2 separate regions of the Homo sapiens genome follow, and region 2 is linked to region 1. The links come from fine-mapping of genetic effects on gene expression. A gene starts in region 1. The other region holds a variant in brackets. All regions are shown on one strand. Distances are from middle to middle.

The links. PIP is the estimated chance that this variant, and not a neighbour inherited with it, causes the effect.
Region 2: its variant is the best candidate, but not a certain one, in a credible set for the expression of PRUNE1 in whole blood (TOPMed, PIP 0.59).

The regions. Positions count from the first base shown.
Region 1 is chr1:151,006,273-151,010,662 of GRCh38, reverse strand. It overlaps PRUNE1 (prune exopolyphosphatase 1), which reads right to left and starts at 2,214. Exons shown (of 8, transcript NM_021222.3): 1 at 1,992-2,214. The coding sequence starts at 2,030. MINDY1 (MINDY lysine 48 deubiquitinase 1) reads left to right here and starts at 3,761. Exons shown (of 10, transcript NM_001376665.1): 1 at 3,761-4,351. RefSeq lists enhancers at 1,575-1,624, 1,280-1,820, 1,821-2,363, 3,856-4,035, 4,266-4,390.
Region 2 is chr1:150,339,836-150,344,225 of GRCh38, reverse strand. PRPF3 (pre-mRNA processing factor 3) reads right to left here. Exons shown (of 16, transcript NM_004698.4): 9 at 3,749-3,828; 10 at 774-917; 11 at 1-64. Among named protein-coding and RNA genes, the nearest start is that of PRPF3, 20 kb to the right of the region's middle. The variant C/T (reference allele first, on the strand shown) is at 2,245.

The DNA of each region.
Region 1 (4,390 bases):
TTTAAATTGTTGGCATCTACCAGTATGTCTTGCCATCAGTTCCCCTGTTAACCTTCCTAGAGTCTAATTTTCTCATTTCTCCAGGCCCTGGAGAGGCTATGTGATGATGCAAGCTCTAAGACACAATCTCACCTTTCACAAGTTCACAAGTTTGAAAGGAAGATCTAGATCTTGCTCCTTGGGGGATGAATGCAGGGAGAGAAAGGTCGAGATGCCAGCAGTATTGGAAAAATCAAGTATTTTTCCAGCTTCATATTGCTGTAGAGAATATACTATTCGGGCTGGGTACAGTGGCTAACACCTGTAATTCCAACACCTTGGGAAGCCAAGCCAGGGGGATTGTTTGAGTCCAGGAGTTTGAAACCAGATTGGGCAGCATGGCGAGACCCTGTCTCTATAAAAATACAAAAAATTAGCCCTGCGTGGTGGCACTGCCTATAGTCGCAGCTTTTTCGGGAGGCTGAGGTGGGAGGATCACTTGAGCCGGGGAGGTGATCACACCATTGCACTCCAGCCAGGGCAACAGAGTGAGACCCTGGCTGAAAATAAATAAACAAATACAAAATAAAAATAGAGAATATACTACTAACCTGGGGGTCGGGGGAGGCTCTGGAGGATATATGCTGGAGAGTAGATGCATGCAAAGAAATACTATTTGGTGAGGTTTCAGGTCCAAGGGCACTTTACCAAATGGTGGAAGAGACCAGTCATTTGGGTTACTGGGGGGTAAAATCCAACTGTTTAGCACTTAGAACGGTGCCCCAAAAACTCTACATTAGTCCTCCAATAAGCGCCCTGTGGTGGACTCAGAGGTAACAAAAAGGGATTGGTTCCAAATGGCCTTATGCATTGAAATAACTCCCCAAATTTGTTTTTCACAAGGAAAATGTCTATGTAATTGGTGTTAAAATGGACCTTCTCCCCAATTCAATATGAAGACAATTCATTTATTCCAGCAGCTGAGTCTGCAGCAGGAATTAGTGACTTTCAGGATTTGTTAAAGACCAGAATCTGTCCCTCAGGGGAATTTGTAGAGTTTAAGATATCTAAAAAGGAAAGCTCAGCAAGCCATCTATCTAGGTTTCTTCAGGGCAGTATAACTCAAAGTAGAGGGGCCGGGTGACCTCCTGGAGCCTGTCTCTGGTTAGCTTTTTGCTGCTAACTGGGGATAACAGCCTAATGCCTCATGACGGCTCAGCATGGCTGGGTGAGTCCAACTGAGTCAGAGAGCACCAAAAATAAGCCACAAAGCATTGAGTAGTCATATTTATGGTTTTGATTCCAAACACACTTTGTGCTTATCCCTTCCAAGTGGAGAATTTTTATGTCATTTGTGTGCGTTAAGGCCAAAGGAGAAACCTGGAGGCAAAGGAATGCTGGTTGTGGGTCAACAAATATGCCTGATGGATTTTGTATGTTTGGCTTAAAAACACTGACTTAAAGTAAAATACTGTGACTACTTCTAACCTAGAAATGAGTTCAGCCCGCCAGACAGAAACTGCCATTCGGAGGAAATAAGGCCGTGAGCACCGGTTCCCTCCACACCCCCGAGGTTCACCTGGAGGCCAGTGGGCCAAGCGAAGCCTTGGGAGCGGAGAACTCAAAGAGGGGCGGGGAGAAAAGAATAAACACACCTCGCGGGGCTAGGCTGGCGGCGGCACAGTCCTGGTTTTTTTGATGGAACTGACCAAGATGACAGCAAGCAGAGGCTCAAATGCAGGATTCAGACCCAAGACTTCTCCCCGCTCTCAGGCGGACCCCAAAGGCGGGGAGCCAAAAACCGGGAGACTGAACAAGCAGCATTCTCACGCTCCTAAACTGGCTTCTCGCTCCTCGCTCCTCATGCCCCAAAACTGATCAGGCCCCAACCCCCCTCCCCACAACTCAGTGTTCCCTCCACACGGACCGTCGAGGCTCCCCCAGATCCCACGTCTTCGTCCTTCCTGGACCCCGTGCTCCATTCCTTACAGTCACAGACAGGGATTCGTTACCTGCAGAGCAGCTCGACAACCCTGCAGGTAGTCCTCCATGATGAAGCCCAAAGTACGCCGTCGCCCCTGGTCGAGTAGAGGTGCCCCTGGTCGAGGAGAGGTTTCCCCGACGAATGCAGCCCGCCCGGGACTCAGGGACTAGAGGCCAGAGTCAGGAGGCGGGACTCGAACCCGCCACACGGCGAATCGGCCTCCGACCCCGGGAGGAACTGCGTAAGCGGGCGCTCCGGAGTCCGGCGTCGCCCCGCCCCCAGCGGCGGAGGCGGGGCTCTACGCCCAGAGGCTCCTGGGACGTCTTTCCGGCGAGGCCAAGGGGGCGTGGCGTGGGGCGACGTGGGAAACGTAGTCCCGCAACTCCGCAATGTCCCTAGCAACCGAGGGAAGGATTGTTTTCTGAGGGATCAGTCGTTCGGTAAACAAATGTGTATGTGTCACAGTAACCCATTATTGTGGCATCTGAACTTTCCCTCTCAGATCAGGCCAAGTATAACATCTTTACATATATCACACCGAGCATCTGGTGACATTTTAAATGACACTTGGCAAAACAGATCATCTTCTTTCTACAAATTCTGCCCTTTACCAAACTGACTCAGTCGCCACCAATTTTGTGGTTGTTCATGTTAGGAGAACATTAGAATAATCTTTGACCCCTCTTGTTAACACCTACAGTCTCCTGCCAACTCCTGCTGCTTCTCCCTTTGCAACTCTGTAGCCTGTTTTTTTCTACAGCCTCGGCAAATATCTTCTTCCTTTCTTGGACGGTTGTAACCTTGGCTTTTTGCTCTCTGCCACCCTAATTGTTCCAATTGCTCTTTCAGCCTTTAGAGTTGCTTGAAATTTCATCCTGTGGCGGCCCTGTACATAGAGTTTAGGGAACCCTTCAGAATGTGGAGTTAGGTTCCAACCTCCCTTAACTGCCACTTTCCAGCCGCAGAGTAGTGCAGGTACTGCAAATAAATGGACACTCATCATCAAAAATTCCCTCATTTATTTATCTATCCCTTTATTTCCTACCGTCAGCCTCACACCAGCTTTTCCTGCTTCCCCAGCTGTAAATCGAGAGGAGGTGACTGATGAGAGGCCTGCAGTGGAACCAAGATCCAGAGCACAGGCGTGTTGGATCTCCTGCCTGCTCTGCCAGTTCTTTTCTTCTTCTTCTTCTTTTTGAGACGGAGTCTTGCTCCGTCTTCAGGCTGGAGTGCAGTGGCAGGATCTTGGCTCACTGCAACCTCCACCTCCCGGGTTCAAGCGATTCTCCTGCCTCAGCCTCCCGAGTAGCTGGGACTACAGGCATGTGCCACCATGCCCTGCTAATTTTTGTATTTTTAGTAGAGATGGGGTTTCACTATGTTGGCCAGGTTGGTCTTGATCTCTTGACCTTGTGATCCGCCCGCCTTGGCTTCCCAAAGTGCTGGGATTACAGGCGTCAGCCATCGCGCCCAGAGCCTGGGGCTTCTACCACACCCTCTGCACTCTACCAGGTGCACAACCCAACCAGTTTCATTTCTAGACTTAAAAATGATACAGCAAGGACTTGGAAAGGAGCTCTCTGGAGGGCTCCAGAGGGAAAAGAGCTGGGTTTGTTTGTTTGTTTTTAACATTAATTGAGTAATACATGCAAATATCGTGCTCTTTGCTCCTGCTTCTGTGGATCCAGAGCAAAGGACTGCCATACCCAGAGAGAGAGCCCAGATCCAACAAGCTGCTTCTGTCCAGCCCTTCTCCTCCCTACTTAGCAAGGGCACTTGCTCTTCCCTATTCTCACCAGAGAGGCACAAGCGCTCCGTCCCTTCTAGAGGCAGGCAGAGGGAAGAGAAAGGGTCTGTTGTTTTTCTCTCCTGTTTCTCGCTCCCTCTCTGCTGATCACAAAGCTGCTGACCGGGTCAGAAAGTCCTGATGGAAATCCACCAGCGCTGGGCAGGCCCCTCCTCCTCCAGGGAGCTTGTCCTTGCCTAATTTTTCTTCGTCCTGATGAGAACAAAAAAGAGAGAGAGAAGAAAAGAAAAACCACAAACTTCCTTTGAAAACCAGCTTGTAGTCAGGGCCCGGAGCGCATGCCATAGACTCGGCGACTCAGGAATCCTGAAGACTCTCTGAGCGACCTGGAGCACCTTGGCTGTGTCCCTGCCTGCCTTCACCCTCCTCCAGTGCCCCCAGTACTGGGCGTGAGTCCGGAAGTGGCCACAACCCAGCCTGGACCGTCGCTTATAAAGCTGTGTAAACCTGTATAAGCTCAGGCGTTGACAGCTGGAAGGCAGCTGGCACTGGCAGCCCCCTTCATTGCACCTATCTCCCCCATCTCATTGCCACGGCTGAACCCTCCTTCTCAATCTTGGAACAGCACCCCCTTCTTTAAGGTAAAAACTTTATTTTAATCATCTTCTTCACCTCTTCTC
Region 2 (4,390 bases), 670 kb after region 1:
TCTACCTTCGTGGGGTCTTGAACAGCTTCTGTTCCTAATACTCGCATCAAATTAGAAATTCTCACTGCAGTGAAGAGAGGACAACAATCAGTCTTTGAAGTCACTTCTCCAGCTGGAGTAACTTGTTATTTCTTCCATACCAATTCATATTATTTACCTATTTCAAATCTCTGCTCTAAACTCACTTCCTCCAATAACTCCTATCTTGAAAATCCCATCCAATCACTTCAGCATTTGCAGAAGTTCACACAATTAAGTTGAAGATTGGTATGCATTTACATTATCTGAAAATTTATGAAGGACGTGGAACTTAATTCCTTTCATATTTTTCACACTGATCACAGCATCTAGTGAAAGAGCTTATAAATAATAGTGCTCAGTCAAAATACTGCTGAACGAGAATGTAACTACAGGGTCAAGTTTTTTATCCTGTACTTTCATTGTAAAAATTAAAACATTAAGAATTATGTACATAAAAAGTCTACGCAAATACTGCAACTACTATCTCCATGAATTTCAAGACCTGTATTCTTCCAGGAAAACCAGAGTGTTGTATGATCAGTATGCTTAAAAATAAGCCATAAATGGCCTCTATAATGAATGTGTTGACCTATCTTAATATGAAAAGATGGTAGAAAACTTGGAGAAAAAGGACCCCAAGAATAATTCTTAGAAACAGAAATCACTCAAACACAGAGATGTTAAAGTTCCTCCAGGATTAAAGACATAAACTTGCCACTCTTTTTAACAGAAGAGGCCACTGAGAAATGCACCTTTGGGTTCTGGAGGAGGCATCAGGCCCAGCCTGACTTTTTCTTGTAGTTCCTTCTGTGCTTCCCTCCTTGTTTGTCTCCGAAGTTTTTTCTGTTCCTTCTTGGTAAGATATACTCCCAGAGTAACTGGTGTGTCATTGTCAACTGTCAGGCAGAGATATTAGTATACCAAAGCAGTAAGAATACATATATATATATATATATTTTTTTTTTTTCTCTCTCTCACTCTGTCACCCAGGTTGGAGTGCAATGGCACGATCTCAGCTCACTGTAGCCTCTGCCTCCTGGGTTCAAGTAATTCTCCTGCCTCAGCCTCCCGAGTAGCTAGGATTACAGGCACACGCCACCATGCCTGGCTAATGTTTGTATTTTTAGTAGAGATGGGGTTTCACCATGTTGGCCAGGCATGAGCCACCAGGCCCGGACAGCAATAAAAATATTAAAGAAACCTAGGTAAATATCAATATCATTAAAAGAAACTTTAGGCTGGACACAGTGGCTTATGCCTGTAATTCTAGCACTTTGATAGGCCAAGGTGGGAGGATGGCGTGAGCCCAAGAGTTCGAGACCAGCCTGGACAACCAAGTGAGACCCAACTCTATTATAAACATTTTATGTAAAAAATATATTGAGGCCAGGTGCGGTGGATCACACCTGTAATCCCAGCACTTTGGGAGGCACGGGTGGGCAGATCACGAGGTCAAGAGATCGAGACCAGCCTGGCCAACATGGTGAAACCCTGACTCCACTAAAAATACAAAAATTAGCTGGGCGTGGTGGCACGCACCTGTAGTCCCAGCTACTCGGGAGGCTGAGGCAGGAGAATCACTTGAATCCGGGAGGTGGAGGTTGCAGTGAGCCGAGATTGTGCCACTTGCCACTGCACTCTAGCCTGGCAACACAGCGAGACTCCATTTCAAAAAACATGTGTGTGTGTGTGTGTGTGTATAAACTTTAAATAGAAAATGAAGAAAACTCGTTAATAAGGGATCAGTAAGATTAAAATCAGTTCAGGCCTGGTGCCCGGCAATATGGCTATGTTTTTAAAAAACATTCTTATCTTTCCTTTTGTTGAGACGGAGTCTCGCTCTGCTGCCCAGGCTGGAGTGCAGTGGCGCAATCTCAGCTCACTGCAAGCTCTGCCTCCTGGGTTCACACCATTCTCCTGCCTCAGCCTCCTGAGTAGCTGGGACTACAGGCACCCGCCACCACGTCTGGCTAATTTTTGTATTTTTAGTAGAGACGGGGTTTCACCTTGTTAGCCAGGATGGTGTTGATTTCTTGACCTCGTGATCTGCCCGCCTCGGCCTCCCAAAGTGCTGGGATTACAGGCATGAGCCACCTCGCCTGGCCTCTTATCTTTCTTAAGTAGTGTTCTTAGTTGTTTTCCTTTAAGCTGTTAAACCCCCTCATTCAATGATACCTGGCAAATGTAGAAAACAAAATTAGGGCCAGGTGCGGTGGCTCACGC[C/T]GGTAAACCCAGCACTTTGGGAAGCCTAGGTGGGCAGATCACTTGAGGTCAGGAGTTCAAGACAAGCATGACCAACATGGCAAAACCCTGTCTCTACTAAAAGTTCAAAAACTAGCCAGGTGTGGTGGCAGGCACCTATAATCCAAGCTACTCCGGAGGCTAAGGCCGGAGAATAGCTTCAACCCAGGGGGGTGAAAGTTGCAGTGAACGGAGATAGTGCCATTGCACTCCAGCCTGGGTGACAAAAGCGAAACTCCAACTCAAAAAAAAAAAAAAGGCCGGGCGCGGTGGCTCACACCTATAATCCCAGCACTTTGGGAGGCCAAGGCTGGCAGATCACCTGAGGTCAGGAGTTCAAGACCAGCCTGACCAAACATGGTGAAACCCTGTCTCTACTAAAAATACAAAATTAGCTGGGCGTGGTGGCACATGCCTGTAATCCCAGCTACTCAGGAGGCTGAGGCAGGAGAATTGCTTGAACCCAGGAGGCAGAGGTTGTGGTGAGCTGAGATCATGCCGTTGCACTGCAGCCTGGACCACAAGAGCGAAACTCCTCCTCAAAAAAAAAAAAAAAAAAAAAATAGAAGCAACTTTGTTTCCCAGTTTCAACTTTGGGAAACTAACAAAAAGCCCTTTGGAATTAGCATCCCTCACAGTGGGTAGTGGAGCATATCGCATCTAATAACACACCAACCCAAGAGTTTGGCTCTTGCATTTGCATTTAGCTGTGGATGCCACAACAACATGTGGTTCTATAAAAGGAGCAAGCTGAGGGCTCTTTCCTAGGAACAACCAGGGAACTGTAAATGTAAAGCTTCATGAAATTTTGGGTTTTTTTCTTTCTTTCTTTCTTCTTTTTTTTTTTTTTTTTTTTTTGAGACAAGGTCTGGCAGTATCATCCAGGCTGGAGTGCAGCAGCACCATCTCAGCTCACTGCAACTTCCACCTCCCAGGCTCAAGCCATCCTCCACACCTCAGCCTCCCAAGAGGCTGGGACTACAGATGCACACCACCATGCCCGGCTGATTTTTTATTTTTTGTAGAGATGGGGTTTTGCCATGTTGCCTAGATCTCGAACTCCTGAGCTCAAGCAATCTGCCCACCTCAGCCTCCCAAAGTGCAGTGATTACAGGCATAAGCCACCATACCCAGCCAAATTTTTTTTCCTTGAGATGGGTCTCACTGTGTTGCCCAGACTGGTCTTGAATTCTTGGCCTCAAGCAATCCTCCTGCCTTGGCCTCCGAAAGTGTTTGGATTAGAGGCATGAGCCACCATGCTTGGCTGTCTCATGAAATTCTAAGCACAGGAATATGCACTTAAAATGTATGTTCACTGGTCAAACAACAAACTATTGTCAGGAAAAAAACTGAATTAAAAAAAAGAATTACACATGGGTAGTGGCTATTGTATTGAACAGCATAGATACAGAACATGTTCCTCACTGTATAAATTTCCAATGGGTAATGCTGCTCTAGAGACTTGATTCAGGAATCTATACATTACCTGGAGGATTGAGCTGGGCTGGATGTTCAACAAGATTTGTGATTCCAAAATAATCTTCTCTCTTGGGATTTTCCTCTGTACTAAAATTGTAGGAAGAAAAGAAAACACGATATGCGGGTAGAGATGATTCTAAGAGAGGAGTCTCAGAAATACAATGAAAAAACCCACTCTCTATAATGGGTTCTTGTGCTTGATATACCTAAAATAGCATTTAGGTACCTAAAATATATAGTTAAATTACACATAATTTTCATGATGAGAAAACTGAGTCCCTCTATGGTTGAACACACTCTCCACAGCAATCATTCTCAACCTTTTTTCTACCATGCCACAGCTGACAGACGCTATGTTCTCTCATTAGTGACAATAAGTCCCTGGAACAGTGGCTGACAAAGAAGGGGCAACGAAAGGCTAAGACAAAATCTACTAAAGCCATGTATCAGAATGATGGAGCAGGGCCAGGTGATGTGGCTTATGCCTATAATCCCAGCACTTTGGGAGATGAAGGCAGGTGGATCACCTGAGGTCAGGAGTTTGAGACCAGTTTGGCCAAATAGTGAAACTCTTGTCTACTAAAAATATAAAAACTGGCCAGGTGTGGTGGTATTTGCCTGTAGTCCCGGATACTTATGAGGCTGAGCT